2 separate regions of the Homo sapiens genome follow, and region 1 is linked to region 2. Evidence: fine-mapped expression QTL. A gene starts in region 2. The other region holds a variant in brackets. All regions are shown on one strand. Distances are between the middles of the regions.

Region 1 (8,823 bases), 120 kb before region 2:
TTTTACAGCTATTTTTGCCGTCCCCTGAATGTACATCAATTTCCATGCAGCAATTGGATGTCTCAGCCTATTGGCTTTTCATAGATGCAAACTTTCCTTTAGGGCTTTGTAAAGAAGTTTTGGGAAGTTCTTCAATAGCAGCAGTTTGGGGACATCACGTGTAGCCCTGTCGATATTTCCTGAATGGATTTCATTCCTTTCTCAGTCTTGACCATTCCCTTACCCAACCCCCACCCCAACACAGTCAAAACCTTTTCGAGCAGCAGCTAGGAAGGTGAGTGGCCTCCCACCATGAGCCTCACTTTGGGGAATCTATGCTTTAGTTGGGGCATATTCTTGCCTTAGCCTCATCTCTGCATTTGGCCTCATTCTGCTGCTGCTTCTCAGTACCCAGAAGTCCTTGGGTTCTACCAGAGACCACTCCGACAGAAAGGGTCAGAAACAACTGACCCTTTCTTGGCTGGGTCTGGACTCTGGAGTACAGGAAGAACTAAATTATTTTGTCTTGGTCCAAGCTGAGCTCACGCTGGCTTCCCGAAGAGGAGACAGGAAGGTTAGGTCAGAAGTATGCTCATGTTGAGACCTAGGGCAGATGGTACCGGGCACCATGAAGCATCTTGAAAGTGGTGCCAGGTGATTGGTTTCCTGTTCCATCCAGCATTCTCCGGAGCCAGGGGCCACCAGCCCAGGATTGAGAGGAGCGTTGGCCTGGGGGCGACCCAACTGCAGTTAGCTGCATCCCATGTCAGTGCTGACTTTTTGGGATGGCTCTGGAAGGATCACCTTGCCAAAACACAGGTCAGGCTGGGTGGTGTCACCGCAGGAGTTGGGGCAGTAGCCCCCAGGCACACACAGGCAGCAGGAGTAGGGGCGGCGAGGCTGAGGTGTCCGAGGCGCCGCCGCAGTCCTGGGCATTCTCCTGCGAACGCAGAGCAGAGGTGACAGCGCGGCGCTCAGAGGAGGACCCTCAAAAAGGGAGGGGCTTCCACCACTAATTTGGGCCAAAATCCTGGGGAAAGGGGAGTTTTGGAAAGCCGGGGAAGCACTGCTACCTCTCTTAGGCCCCTACCTTTTGGGGGAAAAGCAAAGGCTGGCCCCTCAGCCTGGGAGGGGGGCACCGGCCTTCTCTGCTTGCCCTCAGGCTTGGAGTGGCTGCGAGGTCATCCTCTCAGAATGTCCTCAACTCTGGGAGCATCTCTGATGGGGGTTTCTGGTCCCAGCAGACCAGACTGTATGAAGCACCCGGCTCAGGGCCTGACACCTGGGTCTGGGTTCTGGATCCGTACCAGCCACTATGACTATTATCCACGTGACGGCCCCCTCACATTGCTCGATCATTCGGAACTAAGTGTAGCGGGAATGAGGACAAGATGGGAAAACTGCATTCTAATTCACCTAGGGCCCAAGCCCTAGGAAGCGTGGCTCTTCGTTAAAGCACCTTGGGATCCTGGTTGACTTCGTATTTTAATGACACAGGGGCTCTGCTGTGCTTTCACACCAGCACTTCAACAAATGTGAAGGGTTTTTCCCACCCCACTCTCTGGACACCAACTGGGTGTCTGTCCTGAAACTCAATTCAAGTCTGACACTATTGAGAGTTAGCATTAGAGCTCGCAAGTTACAGGGCTCGGTCCCACAAGGTGGCCGTCACTTCAGATGCCAATCGCAAGCCCCAGGTCTCCTGTCCTTCTGACAGACTGGCTGTAAATCTAGGGTTCCCATGAGCCTGTCTCAGGCTCCGTGAGTTGTTAGCGTGGCTCACTCAACTCAGGAAGGTGCTTCCCTCACCATGACCCGTTTATTATAAAGGACGCAGGTCAGGCGGCTGAGTGGAAGAGACACGTAGGCCAAGGCACGGGGTACGCAGAGCTCCCACACCCTTTCACCAATTCGGACACTCTCCAAACACAGTGGCTCGGGGATTTTATGGAGGCCTCATTATGATCATTGATTAAATCTTTGGCCACTGGTGATCAACTCAGTCTCCAGCCCCCTTCCTTTCCCAGAAGCCAGGGGCTTGGAGCCAAAAGTCCCAACCCTCTAATCCTAACTTGGTGTTTCCTGTGGCCAGCTCTCATCCTGTCTAGGGCCCCCAGCCACCAGTCATCTAATTAGCATACAAAGATACCTCTATCATTCCAAGGGTCTTAGAGGCACCTGTGAAGGAACCAGGGACTAAGACCAAACACTATAACAAAAGATGCACCTATCACCCTAATCAGGAAATAACAAGCGTTTTAGGAGCTTGCCAGGAATCAGGACAAAGACTAAATAAAGATCTGTTTCTTATTATATCACAGTGTCACAGGGCATAAACGCGAATGTTTCCCCCGAGAAGCACAGGCACAGGTGTGTTCATTGGCATCCCTATATGCTCCTGTCTGCAGGGGCACAGACCCAGGCACAGAGGGTTTGGGGATGAAAATCCAGCCCACCCTCGATCCGCCTCAACCCGCACCTCTGGATGGAAGGCGTGGCAGGAGTCTGGTCGCCGGCGGAGCTTCTGGGAGCGCATCCGGTCACATTTGACAGAGGCATTATGTGCAGAAGCCACTGTTAAGGTCAATATCTCAGGACCGGAGCCCATTCTGCAGACTGGAAAAAGGTCTGGAAGAACCTGCTCTGGTGCCACCAGTTGCCCTGCAAGCAGCTTTAGGGTCAGGAGGCAGCACCGGGGCCCAGGGAAGGGTTAGAGAACAAATAACGGAGCCCTGTGGAGGACACGGGCGGTGAAGGAGGCTGGCCCCGCTGCTCAAAATCTGAGCCCTACAGACACCTCCTACAGCCCCCGCCCCCACCGCACACATCCCCGAGCATTGCAGGATATATTTGACTTCTGTCGCCTCCTGCAGCACTGGTGGGAAGATGCTGCAGTCACAGGTGGGGTCTGTCACCAGGAGGAGGAGGTTACTGTTGGGAATCTGCTGCACCACAAATACCCTGCAGCAAAGAAAGGGAGTCGAGGATGGCTCCGTGGCGACCACGAGAAGGGCTTCTAGGGAAGGAACTTCTGGAGACTTTAGTGTGGAGTTAGGGTGGCAGGGAAGCCCGGAACCATGAGGCAGGGCGGGTCGGGGCAGCTAAGGGAACGGGCCTGGCAGATGGCTCAGTCCTACTGGCTTTGCTCACAAGCCTTTGCTGCTGCATTTCCTTTCCTAGCAGACTGGAGACAGTGAGGAAGTCCAAACTGGGCCGCTTTGGAGAGTGCAGAGTTGCTATTAATATATGCAGGGACGACAGGCGTAAATCAAGACCGTCCGGAGCAAATGGGCGGGCGAGGCAACACTTGCTCTGGGTGAGGGTGGCGGGGGCAGGCCCGGGCGAAGCGGCAGCGCTGGAGCTTGGCCACCAGGTGGCGCAGTGGCCCCGCGCTCGGCGAGGCCGCCCTGCGAGGAGTGGCGCGGAGTGGGGCGGAGCCCGCCCGCCAGGCCCACGGCCTTCCCAGCAGTCCCAGCGGCCGCCTACCGAGCGCCTCCCCTGGGATGGGCGGTCTCACACACCCAACGTGCACACCACAGCCGTGTATACTCTCAGCCTTCACGGCTCTGTATGAGGCTGGTGTTGTGCCCATTTTGCAGATGAGAGAATGGAGACTAGAGGAGGCGAAGTCACTTGCCCACGGTCATAAGCGGGGGAGCGCAGAGCCAGTTTTCAATTCAGGAGTGTCTACTCTGAAGCCCTCGCTTCACTCCGGAGCCCGCTGGCTCTATCCTCGCACCGAGCCTTTGCGACAAGTGCACAGGGAACGCTAACCCCAGCCCTCAACGCTGCACAGAACCCGGGGTGAAACCCGCGCAGCACGACGCGCAGGGAGTGGGGGAGAAGGGAGCCCCGATGCCAGCGCCGCAGGTGCCGCACTGTTAAATGGTGTGCCACGGGCCCGGGGGTCTAGGGACCGCCTGGCGAGCGGCACGTCTGGCTGAGGCGACCCTCGAGGAGGCCGCCGCATTCCCAGCGTGGGGGTCCTCCCGGGCTTGGGTGCGGGGGGTCAGCAGGAGAGACCCTTCCGCGCGGCCTCCCTGCCTCCCCGGGGCCAGGGCGGGTTATAACTAGCGGCTTCCACACAGCAGGAAGCCTGACAGAGGCTGCCCGCGGGGCTCCCAGCGACCCGAGGACATCGCACACTTCCGGCCTTCTCTTCTCACACTCCCTCTGCCTTCCAAGTTCTCCCCACGCAGCTCAGGCGCGGGCACTGGCACCGCCCTGGGCACCGCCTGAGCAGGGCTGGGGGAGACCCGCCGAAGGGCCCACTCGCCCAGAGACGCCGTGGGGTCACGGCTGCGGCCTCGGCGGGGTGGGCTCGACACACAGGGTCAGGCCTCGGGACCACCTCTCCCCATCCCGGCTGTCCCGGTCCCCAGCCGTCCTGCC[C/A]GCCTCAGACCGTCCGCCTCCTGCGTGTCTCCTCCACTGAGGACGGCGGGGGAAGACCCCGGGAGCGTGGGCTCTGCACTTAGACGCATCCCCTCCTCCCGGCTGTGGAGCCGTTTCCCGGGGGTTCCGGGGCCCTGCCCGCACTTCCGCCTTGCCGAGGGCGGGAGGAGTGTGGCGGGACGGGCGGCGCCGCCCTGCGGTCTTACTTCTGGCAGGGCCCGCACTCCACGATCCCGTTGGCCTCCCGGATGGCCGGCTGGTACACGAACACGGGGTACTCCGTGTCGCAGGGCTGCAGCGGGTCCTGCTTCTTGTGTTTGTGGGCTGCGGGCGGAGAAAGGACATCACGCCACCGAAGGGGCCTCTGGCCTGCGGTGACCTCGCCTCGGCACTCCCAGGGCCAGAGTTCACCCCAGTGCATTTGCAGAGGGTCCCTCCTCAGGCAGTTCTCAGGACACGCGTGGGAGGAGCCGGGCGGGGGGTGAGGGGAGGGAAGACACCCGGAGTCTCTGGAGAGGGTGGCTTGGCACGGGGAGCGCCGCAGGGGCCCTGAGCCTCGGTGGAGGGAAAGCGCTTCCTCTGGGGAGCCTGGCCCTCACTGAGCTGGGGGCAGTGCACCATCTCCAGGGCCCCTTCCAGCACTCAGATCCCGGGGGAGGGTCTGAGCGGGGAGCAGAGGCAGTAGGGGCACCAAGGGGTGGCTTGGGGGTACTTAGGCCCACCACCCCTCCCTTCACTGTGGACAGACGCAGTGCAGTTCCTGGGCAATCCTGCCCTGCTCTCCCGCACAGCCAGGCCCACACTCCACCCATTGAGCCTGAGCGCCTGCGGTGGGGGCAGCCGGGCAGGTGGGCTCCAGGCCTGGGGCTGCGGAAGCCCAGAAGCCACAGCCACCCGGTGCGGGACTCCTCGGGGGCTGCGCGATTTGCCTTAGCTCCCTGGGACAAGGACAGTGGACTCAACCAAAGGTGGAGGCGAGTGCCTCAGCCCCGCTCTGCAGGACCCGAGTCCGTTCCCTCCCGGAGCCTCCTGAGGTGGGCACATGGCAGAGCAGGGCCCTGCCACACAGGCTGTCTGCATGGCCCTTCTGTTCTCAGGGCCTGGCTGTGGCCCCCAGGGATAGACCTAGAGGCAGGGAGCACAGGTGTGAGCTACCTTCCCAGGCTCATGCAGAGTCCTACAGGAGAGCATGGGTCTCCCCAGCTTCCAAATCCAGAAGCTCCCAGCCAGAGCTGGAAACCCAGAGGGGACACTAGCTGGCGTGCAGAAAACTCTCACCGAGAGGAGCAAGCCCACAGCGGCCAGGGCTGTGAGTTTTGTCCCCAGGGCTGGGCACAGAAGCCTGCCTGACAATGGCAGGGTTGAGTGGCGTCCCCAGGGTCACGCAGTGGAAGGGGCTGCAGCACCTACGCCCCGGCCTGGGACTCCAAGTCCAGTGCGCCTTCACTGGGGACACTGACATCTGTGTAGGCCAGACCAGGGGGAGGAGCTCCAGGGGACAGGTACCCCAGAGAAGAGAAATTCTGAGCAGGCAGATTGAGGGGGATCATCTTCAACTTTTGCAAGATGCAGCTGCTGACAGAGACAGAGGGGACAGTGTCCTGTCACTGACACCTAGTGACTGTGAACACCCCAGAGCAGCCCCACCCGATCGCGGATGTGAGTCCAGAAGGAGTCTGGAGACACAGCCCGAACTGCCCTGAGCCCAGGGGCAGAGGAAGCCCCAAGCCAAGGCCAGCAGAAGAGAACGAAGAGCAAGCCAGAGAGAGGACCACAGTGGAGATGAAGAGATGGGATAAGCTGGGGACAGCCCAGGTGGTGGGAAGTTCTGGAACCCCATGGCAAAGGTTCTAGGAACACGGAGGAACTGAGCAGAGCCCGCTGAGGCAAGATGGCCTCCTGCAGTCATGGAGGGCCCAGGCGCCCGGGCAGTGAGTGCTTTGAAAGGCCAGGCTCATTGCCGCCCTGCACGTGTGGCCACAGCCACCGGGCTTTGTGTTGGGGCCTCTCATGGTTGCTGCCTCTGGGGGACTCTGTCCTCAGACACAGGGTCCCGCAGGGGAATCATCCTGAGAGCTTCCTGGGGCCCCTGGAACCCGGAGTCCCGCTGAGGGCTGGGGTGCCGCTGTTTGCTTCTCCAAGGGGTGGGCTGGAGGTTGCTCACTCATACTGGCTCATGGCCACCCGGCCACACCACCGGCTTCCTCTTGGAATCTTACGTGTTCTCACCCAAGGGGAGGCTGGAGTTTCTCATTTTCCCTGGGGCCTGACCGTCCTCATGTGGGATGAGAACTGGGCTAGACTCCCCAGTCCCCCAACCCCCAGGAATGGTACTTTAAACCAGGAGAGCTCAGCCCTGCTTGGGGTCATTCCTGGGACAGGTCATGGAGGGTGGGTTCTTTGTAGCTCCTGCTGCGTCCCCAACCCACCGCCAGCAGGGATGGCCTCAGCTGGGCTACTTACAGTGATGGAAGACACTTTTGGCTGGCCGGAACATAAGCCCAGCACAGGGTGGACACGGCACAGGAAAACATGGTGGCACATGAGGGCAGGATGTCATGGGGTGGTGATGATGGCACATGGAGTGGCGGTGTCCCAAGATGATGTCACACACAGAGCCAGGAGTGAGGGATGTGATGAGAGAAGGCCACGCAGGGTGAGATGTGAACAACGATGCTTCAGGGTCACCTATCCCCACTGTCACCCACCCCACAGGGAATGGTCTCACGTTAGTGGACCAAAATGCCACTGCTCTTCAGCACATGGCCCTGCAGCTCCGTGCACTCACCCTCGGCCCCTCTGTCGTACCAGGAGCCCCAGACACTCCACTCCAGCAGGAACCTGTCAGACACAGGACTGAATCTCGGAGACCTCTGAGCCCTCCCGACTTGGGTTCCCAAGGAGCTGGAGTATCCCTGACAGCCCCCGGCCCATCCCCTCTCCTCCAGGACACCCTCTTCCCTGCTTGAGGGCTCTGGTTGAGCAATGAGGTCCCTCCCAGGGGCAGCATGCAGGGAAGAGGTGGCGTCCATGCCCAGGGATTGTGCCCTCCTTCCCCGGGGTCTGGTAGCAAGTGGGTTGTCCTGGAGACCTTGCAGCCTCCTGCTCAAGGACACCCTCCTAAGCCACCCTCGCATGCAGCCCTCCACCAGCCCCGTGTCTACCCCCACTCACAGCACCAGCTCCTGCAGCAGCCACCTGGTCGCCGTCAAGAAGGCAGAAATTGGCTGGGAAGGAGAGAGTGCACACCGCTCGCACCTAGGTCCAAGGGTGAGGGTGCCCCCCCCCCACCACCAGCACCACCCTCAGAGAGACCAGAGAGTGGGCTGCCCTGCCACTGGGAGCAGGGGCAGCAGAGCACAGGCCAGCAGCCCAGCACCCCCCATCCCCCCACCTCCCACCTGCCCTGCAGAGCTGAGCTAGCTGGGAAATGCCTATTGCAGGTCAGACATCTCGGGTGGGGTTGGACATGCCCCTCCAGGAGACGAGTCAAGCCCTCATCCTGGTGCTGCACTGCTGAGGATCCCTGGTGATCAAGCGGCAGTGTCAGGGGCTGAGGCTGGGGCAGGCTGCTCTCTCTGTCTCCGCCAGAGGCACTGTTGTGTCACAACTACCAGAGCAGTCCCTCTGAAGCCCCAAAGCCAGACCCAGAGGCCTGCCTGGGAGTGGGACTGAGAGCAGTGGCTCTGAGCAGAAGATGGAGATGGTCAAGGTAGGGCCCTGGGGCCAGACACCCAAGGTGGGTGAGAACAGGGACCAGTGACCTCATTCCAGGACAGGGCAGAGGACTGGCTGGCTGGCTGGCAGAGGGAAGGGCTGGGTGACACTCACGCTGACCAGGGGCTGGGCTGCACTGTGGTGGTGACTCGAGGGTTTGCACATGGCCTGATAGTCATACATAGTCACTCTGAAAATCAGAAGCGGGCTGTGATGAGTCCAAAGCCACCCCCACCCCCTGCCCCTGCCTCAGGAGGCTTTACTAGCAGAGCATCCGTTTACCGCAATTCCCAAGGGCGCCTGAGCTAGGACAGCAGATCAGAATACAGCTCATGCTGAAAATTACATTTCTGCACTTGGAATGGTTTAAAGACAATGAAGAGCAAATGGCTTTTGCCCTCGGAGTTGGACGGTTTTCCCTCTAGGGTCTGAGCTGCGGAGCCCCTCCCAGGGATGCCCACATGCCCTTACGCCCTCCCCACATCATGCTGACGCCCTGGCTCCATAAAGGTTGCTTTTGCAGCTCTTTGGGGGCACCCACTGTGGGTTTTGGAGGTCAGGATCCTGAGATCCGCCAGGACCACTTAGCGTCAGCTCTCGGTTTGCTGTGTCTATTTGGACTGGGGAGGAGTGTGCCCCACTTACTGGCTGAACACCCCCATGCTGAGCAGCTGGGTCAGGACAGCACCATCCACCTCCCCCAGAAATCTTCCCGTCTGTGAGAGAGGGACAGCA
Region 2 (8,823 bases):
AGCACCTGTCCCTCCTCCTTGTCCCTAAAGCTACAGCCATGGCCTGGGCAGGAGACGCGGAGAACCCTCAGGACCCAGCGGCTGCACTGCTGTGTGCTGAATGTCCTCGGCAGGTTCTCCTGCTGAGGGTTGTGGGGCCGGGCTGACGAGCCCAGGACTGAGCTTGACCCCAAGCTTCCAGGGCCTCTGGTTGGAGAGTGGCAGACTGAGAGGAGAGAAGGAGGGGAGAGGCAGTGGACAGCCTCAGGCCAGGGCCGGAGGACCCTGAGGACAAAGGACAACCTGCCTGGCCACAGCTGTGGCCTCTCAATAAATCGTTCCCTCCAGTGCACTCCACTCAAAGCCACTGGGGGCTGCCGAACCCTCTGTTGAAACCTCAGAGAACGCGTGAGGCAAGGGCACAGCAGGAAAAGGCTCTGAGCTGCCACTGCTGAGCCTGAGGGCAGGGCAGGCCAGGAGGGCATAAGGAGGCCACACCTCACCCTCTGTGTAGGCAGCCTAGTGGGGAGCCCCGACCTCTCGCCCATGCCCCAGAAATGCACCACAATCCCACCATCTTGGCCAGGCTGGTGGGGTCCTGGGGGCAGGTACACAGGGCTGGGGCTGAGCCTCTCCAGATGGAGCGGAAGTGGTTTGCCTGTGCGATCCTTTCAAGATCAGCAGTCATCACTCAACCAATGTTTATCAAGGTCCTACCATGTGGCAGCCTGGAGCCACCCCACAGTCCCCACCCTTGCAGGGACAGCTTTGTCATGCGGGTAGCATAGTACATGTTTGAAGGTGCCCATGAAGGTTGGGGAGGGGTAGTGGTATAAGGGAAGGCTTCCCTGGGGAGGGAGATCTGAGCTCCAGGTTAGAAGTTTGGTAGAGGTTAGCCTGCAAAGGGGTCTGGGAGAGGATTCTAGGTCGGGAGTACAGAAGAGCTTGGAGGAGTAAAACGTGACTTCCGGGCTTCCAGTGTGGGTTGTTGACCTGATGGTGTTGTTACTGAATACAATTAAGACTATCAGGAAGGGCAGGGGGAATGAGCTGAGGAGGGTGAAAAGTGATGTGTGTACCTTGGGCTCTGCTGAATGTGAGGTTCCCGTTGTAGAGCTACCAAGTACCATTGGGAAGGTTGTGCACTGCACAACTCTAGAAGGCACCAATTGTGTTTTACCTTGAAAGACACAAATCTGAATTTAAAACCTCACATGATGTTTAGGAAAAGCTGCCCATAAGCACTGGGTATGTGTCTAGTAGGTAGAGACAGGGCTGGGAGTCATTGATGCAAAGGTAGGGATTGAAATTCTGAGGGCAGGAGGGCTCTCTCAAGGAGAGTGTGCAGCGTGAGATCTCTGAGCGTCGACAGCTGCTGGGGAGCACCCCCCACCTCCGGGGCAGGCAGAGGAGGAGGAGCACTTGAGGACAGCAGAGATAAGCCGTGCCCATGCAGGCCCAGCGGAGCGCAGTGCCACGGAAGTCAAGGACTGGGATAAAAGAAGACGGGGGCTTGTGTGTCCCAAGCAACAGGGTCTGGGGTGACAAGGCCAGGAATGTCTCCTGGATTGGGCATGAGGAGGGCTTTGGGAACCCTGTGGAAACAGACTTGGGAGGAGGTGGAAGCCCGGCTGGAGGGAAAGACTGAGAAGAGAGGTTCGGCGGGAGTGAGGACAGGTGGGGCCAAGTCCTGGGCAGGCAGATGAGGCTGTGTGCAGGCTGTTGTCTCTGGCAGCACCCAGGGCTTCTGCATAGATGGCCGCTGGGGCCCCCCTCCCTGAAGGCCTGGATTCCAGCCACCCCGACTTGGCCCTCAGCCCACTCCTGGAGTTGGCCCTCTCCTATCAGCTGGTGTGTGTTCTGGGGATGAAAATTGTTCTGAACATCTCCTGCAGCAACAGATAGCGTTACGGGCTGGCGGCGGGTGTAATGGTGAAAGTGCAGTCCAGGCTGACAGGAGTTCAAATCCCAGCACCTTCACTTCCTGGCCTTGTGAACTTGGGGAAGTCACCTGACCTCTCGGGGCCTCTGTTTCCTCAGCTGCAAAATAGGGATAAAAATAAGCCCCCACTGAATGGCTCTGCAAACTAACGGTGTCATTTGTGAAGCGCCCAGCTCCGTGCCAGGCAGGGAACAAGGAGAGCTATGCGGCTCGATGGGAAACGATGCTGCCTAATCCACTGGTCAGCAAAGGCTAAGCACAGGCACGGTGTGTCATTTAGGCTCCCTGTCCCCACTCCTGCTAAGACATGCAGTTGGCAGGTGGCTCTGTTGGTGGCCTGGCTATGGTGCTGGGCTCAAGCGGCTGGAGTAAACAGGATGGGGTCTGTAGCACCTACAGTCTAGAAGGCTCTGCTACCCACATGTATTGGAAATTTCCTTCCTAGGACCACCTGAGCTAGGGCCTAAAACACAGACACCCCAGAGAGGTTGCACAGTAATTTACATGTACACCAAGGTGCACATGACTGATACCGGGTTCTTTCCTGGAGCCGGTCTTAATGGCCGGCTAGAGAATCAAGGTTGGAAGGAGGCAGAAAGGTGTAGAAAGGGAAGACTGCGGCCACCAAAATCCATTTTTTTCCCCAGTTCCTGGACAAGCCACCTCCTGTGCGCATGAGACGTTCTGTGGGTTCAGAACTGCTTCCCCTTTTTGGAATGTCAAAATACGCATTTCCTGCCAAATGCTTCGGGGAGCTGCGATGCTGAGATAACCCGGCTCCTCCAGGCTGCCTCATCTCAGCGATTATCCTGAAGGAGCACCCGCCCTTCAGGTGTCCCAGAAGCTGCTTGTCAGGCCAGGAAGACAGCAGCCCTGATGATCAGTTCTTCCTAAAGCCATCCGGCTCCTGGGGAGAGGCAGGTGGGACTCCAGAACTCACAGAGCTTTTGGGAGGAGAAAGAGGAGGCCGGAGAAGCAAAGGGCTTTACAGCAAGAGAGTGGTCAGTCGCAGCCACTGGGGAAAAGCCCAGAGGGAGGGCAGGGGCGGGAGGAGTGGGCAGAGGATGGAGGCCCAGCCCGGGAAGAAAGTGGGAAAGGGTGACCGGGTTTTTGGGGTGGGGTTGAACGTGATGCTTACGTTTCCAGAGGAATCTTGGCCTGTCCCCACGCAGGGGACAGGGAGGTGCCTAGAAGCAGCAGCCACAGGAGGGCCGAGGTCTTCTGCACAAAGGCCCAGGCCACGGGCATTGGCTGGAGGGGAATCCAGCGGCTGCTGGAGCTGGGGTTTGCGAGGAAGTTGGGAGTTGCAGGCATGGTGGGCCTGGGGTTGGGGAGGGGAAGGAGGGCAGAGCAGCCACAGACCATGAGCTCTGTCTGCCTTCCTCCCAGACCCCAGGACGCCCCAGGCCTTTGTCTTCCGTGCCTTGGCGAGCCTGGGGTCTCCAGCCTCTCAGTCCTGGGTGGGGAGGGCTTCTCTCTGCCCCACAGCTGCAGCTCACAGAAGAGTCGCCCCACCTAGCAAGCAGGCCTCGGAGACAGGGACTGGGGGAGAGGCTGTGGCAACATGAAACCCTTTAATCCGCTGGCCTCTCCTCTAATCCTCTCCTGACAGCAGGGAGGGGGTGGCAGGGGGTGGGGAGCTGCCTCCCAAGATTACCACAACTGCAGCTGGTTCCCTCAGGGCTATAGTGCACCCCTCTGCTTTAAAGAGGCAGCCCCGTTCCTGTGGAACCACCTTCTGGACCCAGGAAGGGCTTGCTGTGACTATGGCCAGAGGACAGCAGCTGAGTTTGCACAGTACTCTGATTGACCCACAAATCTCTTGTTGACCCTGAGGTGGGGGTGTGTCCTCATCCCTGCTTGGCAGAGGCTCTTGAGGCCCGGGGAGTCCCAGGGGCAGAGCTGGGACTCTGGCTGGTGTTTCCAGGCCTGGTGCCTTTGGGACAGGTCATAGGTCATAGGTGAAGTCAGTGGACCCACGCCTCCACATCTCAGCTGCTCGTGGGCGGGGCTGGGGACGCATTTGCTGTGCAACTGATGAAGCTTCAGGACCCCTGAATCCACAGACTCCCCCCTTTCCCGGAGAGGCCCTAGCAATGTGTTCCTGTGGCCAAATGTTTTTGTAAAATATGCAAAAGTTGAGATAGTTTAACCATAACCGGTTGAGACTGTCTGTCTCTTTCCATCCCAACTTCTCTTCCGTCTGAGGGACTCTTAGTTGGATGATGTTTGGGTGGCTGAGGGCACTTGGGGGATCCAGTTAAGAGGAAAGTGAGCTGGGGAAACACTTAATCTGGGCTTAGTGGGATATGCTGACATGGTTCACAGTGACTTCTTTGTACAGAGAAGTTACCTCCAGCTGAGTGTAGGCAGGGCTTCCAGGAACACTCATCCCACAGGACATCCCACCAGCAGATGCAGCAAGAGAGGCTGGGCCGTGATGTGAGCGCACGCTGTCACACCCACCCTGGCCATGTGTGGTGGGGAGGGCAAAGTAACAGTCAGGAGCTCATCTGCAGAAAATCTACAAAAAGCCACACAGGTAACATCGTTGGTGGAGGATTTGGTTCTCACCAAGGCCTGGCCAGGACAGAAGTTCTCTCCTGTTAGGAAAATAGTGGATATTGAAAGAATATAATTACACCGTACATTGCTTTGTGTTCTGATGAGAGTTACACAAATTAGAATTGATCAAAATTCTTGTGTTGTGAGCCCAAACCAGTAGTAGTACCACATGGGTTCTCCGGGGGTGAAGTCATAGATTTTATGCAGTCCCCGTATCAGATTATTTTCTTAGTGTAACTGGTGCACTGTGTCTTCACAAAATCTGGTGGTTCCAGCAAAATGGTAAGCAAAATTGCCACCAACGCAGAGAAATGCTTGCAGAAGCAAGTGTTCTGATGACAAAACTCCTACACAGATTCATCAATAAGTCAGTGCTGTAGTATCAGAGTAATCTGGTGGCACAGTTTTGTGGCTGAATACAATGTATTTTTTAAAGGCATCTAAATGATTCCTATGAATGCCTTAATTTCACATAAATTTTGTACATGTTTTGAGGATTACAAATCAAACACATTTAGAAAAAATACTACAGAGGCACACTGGGCAGTCAATACATAAAAAGAATGTAACTTCTCTAGGTTTTGTGAATTTGGTGGAATTCACCAGCTTCTTAAAATTTGTAATTTGGAATGATTTTTAAAACTGAATAAATATTCACCTTTTTTCAACTTTTTTATTGTGGCCCAATATTTATTGTGGCATAAAATGTGCCATCTTAATCATCTTTTTAAGTGTACGGTTTAGTGTAATTAAATACATTAATCATGTTGCTCCACCTTCGCCGCCATCTATCTCTATAATTCGTTCATCTTGTAAAACTGAAACTCTGAACCCATTAAACACTAGCTCCCGTTCCCTCCTCCCCCAGCCGCTGGCGGCCACCACTCTCCTTTCTGTATCTCTGATGTTGACGGTTCTAGGGACCTCACAGAAGGGAAGTCATCACATAGTTGTCCTTCCATGACTGGCTCATTTCACTTAGCACAATGTCGGTAAGGTTCACCCACGGTGCCGCGTGTGTCAGAATTTCCTTACTTTTTGGGGGTGACCAATGATGGGTTAATATTTCATTGTGTGGATAGACCTCATTTTGTGCATCCGTTCCTCTATCGATGGACCCTGGGGTGGTGTCCTCCTTTTGGCTACTGTGAAATATGCTGCCGTCAACACGGGTGTGCAAATATCTCTCGAGATCCTGCTTTCGATAATAAATATTCACTTTTATTTTTATGTTTGTACCTGGGATTTGCATTATTTTTCTTTTATGGGTAACCACTCCCACATTATACAAGCTCCCACTGCCCCCACGGGGTTCCAGCACCCTGTCCGGAAAGCCTTCGCCTCCCTCTACTGTGTCAAGCGTGACAGCGGCTTGGAAAGCTCCGTCCTTCGCAGACACACTGGCGGCCTGTGTCCTGTGCGCCCCTTAGACATACTTAGGAAGCCTCAAAACCAGGCCTTCTCAGCCCAAGGCCACCGCCGGCCTCCAGGCGGCTGCCTCTGCCCACTTCCCCTTCAGGCTCCAGCGACGGCTTCCTTCCCTGACTGGTGGAGGAGGGGGTACAGCTGGGCTGCATCCTGCGTCCCCTACATCCACCCCTTTCCAAGGAGTCCTTTGGAAACCAGCTTTCCCACCTGTTTCCTGCGGGCCCCTGTCTGGTACCGGGCCTCCCCACCCTGCCTCTCATCATCTATTCTTAATGCAGCAACCGAAGGCTCTTTTCAAACGTAAGTCAGACCCTGTGGCTCCCTCCCTCTGCTCCGAAGCCCCCAGGGCTGCCCATCTCCCTTAGAGGAAAAGCCACAGTTTTGACCACAGCCACGAGGCCCTACCTGGCTGGAGCTGGCTTGATTTTAAAAATCATTCCAAATTACAAATTTTAAGAAGCTGATGAATGCCACCAAATTCACAGCCACGAGGCCCCACCTGGCTGGAGCTGGCTTGATTTTAAAAATCATTCCAAATTACAAATTTTAAGAAGCTGATGAATGCCACCAAATTCACAGCCACGAGGCCCCACCTGGCTGGAGCTGGCTTGATTTTAAAAATCATTCCAAATTACAAATTTTAAGAAGCTGATGAATGCCACCAAATTCACAGCCACGAGGCCCCACCTGGCTGGAGCTGGCTTGATTTTAAAAATCATTCCAAATTACAAATTTTAAGAAGCTGATGAATGCCACCAAATTCACAGCCACGAGGCCCCACCTGGCTGGAGCTGGCTTGATTTTAAAAATCATTCCAAATTACAAATTTTAAGAAGCTGATGAATGCCACCAAATTCACAGCCACGAGGCCCCACCTGGCTGGAGCTGGCTTGATTTTAAAAATCATTCCAAATTACAAATTTTAAGAAGCTGATGAATGCCACCAAATTCACAGCCACGAGGCCCCACCTGGCTGGAGCTGGCTTCTCCTGACCGCGCCTCTCTGGGCGCGGGCTCCCGCTGCTCCTTGGGTGCCTCAGGCGCGCCCCCCATCGGTGCGGCTGACCCCCGAGCTTGCAGTCCGCGCCGCGGCTGTGTCTGCCTGCTTCCCCCTGCGTGGCCGGCCCTCTCATTTCCATCAGTGTCTGGCGTCGGGTTTCCTGCAGGAAGAGCTGGTACCCCTGGATCGGGCAGCTTGAGACGAGTTTAACAGAGAGGCTATTTACAGAGGTGTGGACGGAGTCCTGCAGGGACACTGCAGTGGCCAGGGCTGGAAACCGCGGGAGCTAGCCCCTAAGCCTCGGGGAGGGGGACGGGGACGGGGACGGGAAAGCCACTGTACCCTGGAGAGAACAGGCTGTATGGGGGGGACTGTGGCCGCCAGGCAAGGGATGCGGCCAGCCACAGCAGTCCCGTGGGAGGGCTGGGGCCGTGGACACCCACTCACCCTCTGCCTCCCCCGCTCTCCTGCTGGTGCCTCCACCCGGGGAACCTTAGGGACTTATCCGCGTGCCCTCGCTCCCCCCCCAGGACAGCCCCCCAGGGCAGGGAGAGCACTCGGAGGGGCCAGCAGGAGGCGTCCGGCTCAAGGTCTTCAACGCCACCTTTTATGATGAAAGTGTCCTTGAATGAGAGAGTGGTGGGCAGTGACGCACGGCTTTGTGAATAGCCTGTCAAGCACCGAGCTGCAAACTTTAACATGGAGAATTTTACGGCATGTGAATTACTTCTCCATTAAAAAACCTTTTTTTTTTTTTTGAAAATCACCTTTTTAATGAGTGAAGACTTTCCTGGCTACAAGATCCACCATCTTGGCCCGACCCCTGACGTTCCCTGTCCTTCTTCACAGCATCTTTCTTCTCCTCAGTGGCTATCATGGGACGTGCCATATACAGGCCTCCTCCTCTAGCACGCAGCCTCCATAAGGGGCAGGGCCTGCGGGCTGTTTGTCCCTGCTGTATGCCCAGTCCCTCAGCACAAGGAAATAAAAATGTGATTGGAATGAAGGAGGGATTGAAAGGGGGGTGATTCTGGGTGGAGGTGAGGGCGCTTGGGCCAAGTCCTGCTTGTCTCCGCCTCCGCTCTCTGGGGCCTTTGAACAGGAGCCCCAGGGCCCCAGGGTCAGTTTGGAAACCCCCATGTAGCCAGGCAAAGGCTTTCATTTCCCGTTCATTTTACGAATGTGTCTCCGGCGGCTCATTTCATCTTCAAGTGACACAGGACATCACGAAGGCCTTCTGTGGTATTTGTACGCCACTATTCATTGCAGTGTGATTCACGACAGCAGAAGGTGGGAGCAACCCGGGTGTCCACCACGGATGGACATGGATCATGGATAAATCCAAGTGTCATCAAACAAACAAAACGTGGTATTGCACATGATGAACTATTAAGAGGAAGGAAATCCTGACACACGCTACAACATGGATGAACCTTGAGGACATTATGAGTGAAATAAGCCAGTCACAGAAAGACGAATACTGTATGATTCCATTGATACGTGGTTCTCAGATTCACAGAGACAGAAAGCAGAATGGTGGGTGCCCAGGGCTGGAGGAGGGAGCAGTGGGGAGTTAGTGTTTAGTGGGTGCAGAGCTTTGGTTCTGCAAGGTGAAAAGGGTTCTGGAGATGGAGGGTGGTGGTGGTTTCACAAGCGCATGAATGTATTTAGCACCACTGAGCTAAAACATGCTTACGATGGTACATTTTGAGTTACGTGTATTTTAGCACAATGTTTTAAAAGAAGAGAGAAAAAAGAGGTGTGTGGGGGGTGCTATAGAGCTGCCCGGGGCAAAACCAGGAGTCCAGAACCCTCCCAACTTCCTCATCCCCCAGAGACTGCTTCCCATTCTTCACACATCCATCGCTCCAAAATGCCAGTCTGGCTGGATTGCAGAGCTTTGAAAGGG

Evidence for each region. PIP is the estimated chance that this variant, and not a neighbour inherited with it, causes the effect.
Region 1: its variant is fine-mapped to the expression of CACNA2D4 in unexposed skin (GTEx, PIP above 0.99).

What each region holds. Positions count from the first base shown.
Region 1 is chr12:1,792,841-1,801,663 of GRCh38, forward strand. CACNA2D4 (calcium voltage-gated channel auxiliary subunit alpha2delta 4) reads right to left here. Exons shown (of 38, transcript NM_172364.5): 30 at 8,734-8,804; 31 at 8,203-8,278; 32 at 7,546-7,598; 33 at 7,160-7,212; 34 at 6,835-6,855; 35 at 4,578-4,695; 36 at 2,828-2,940; 37 at 2,459-2,541; 38 at 1-919. The coding sequence ends at 815. LOC105369602 (a long non-coding RNA gene) reads left to right here and starts at 7,599. Exons shown (of 4, transcript XR_931549.3): 1 at 7,599-8,083. RefSeq lists enhancers at 2,707-3,274, 3,386-4,291, 4,292-5,196 and silencers at 3,235-3,564, 3,905-4,034, 4,135-4,364. The variant C/A (reference allele first, on the strand shown) is at 4,372.
Region 2 is chr12:1,915,188-1,924,010 of GRCh38, forward strand. CACNA2D4 (calcium voltage-gated channel auxiliary subunit alpha2delta 4) reads right to left here and starts at 3,465. Exons shown (of 38, transcript NM_172364.5): 1 at 3,060-3,465. The coding sequence starts at 3,286. RefSeq lists an enhancer at 1,538-2,114.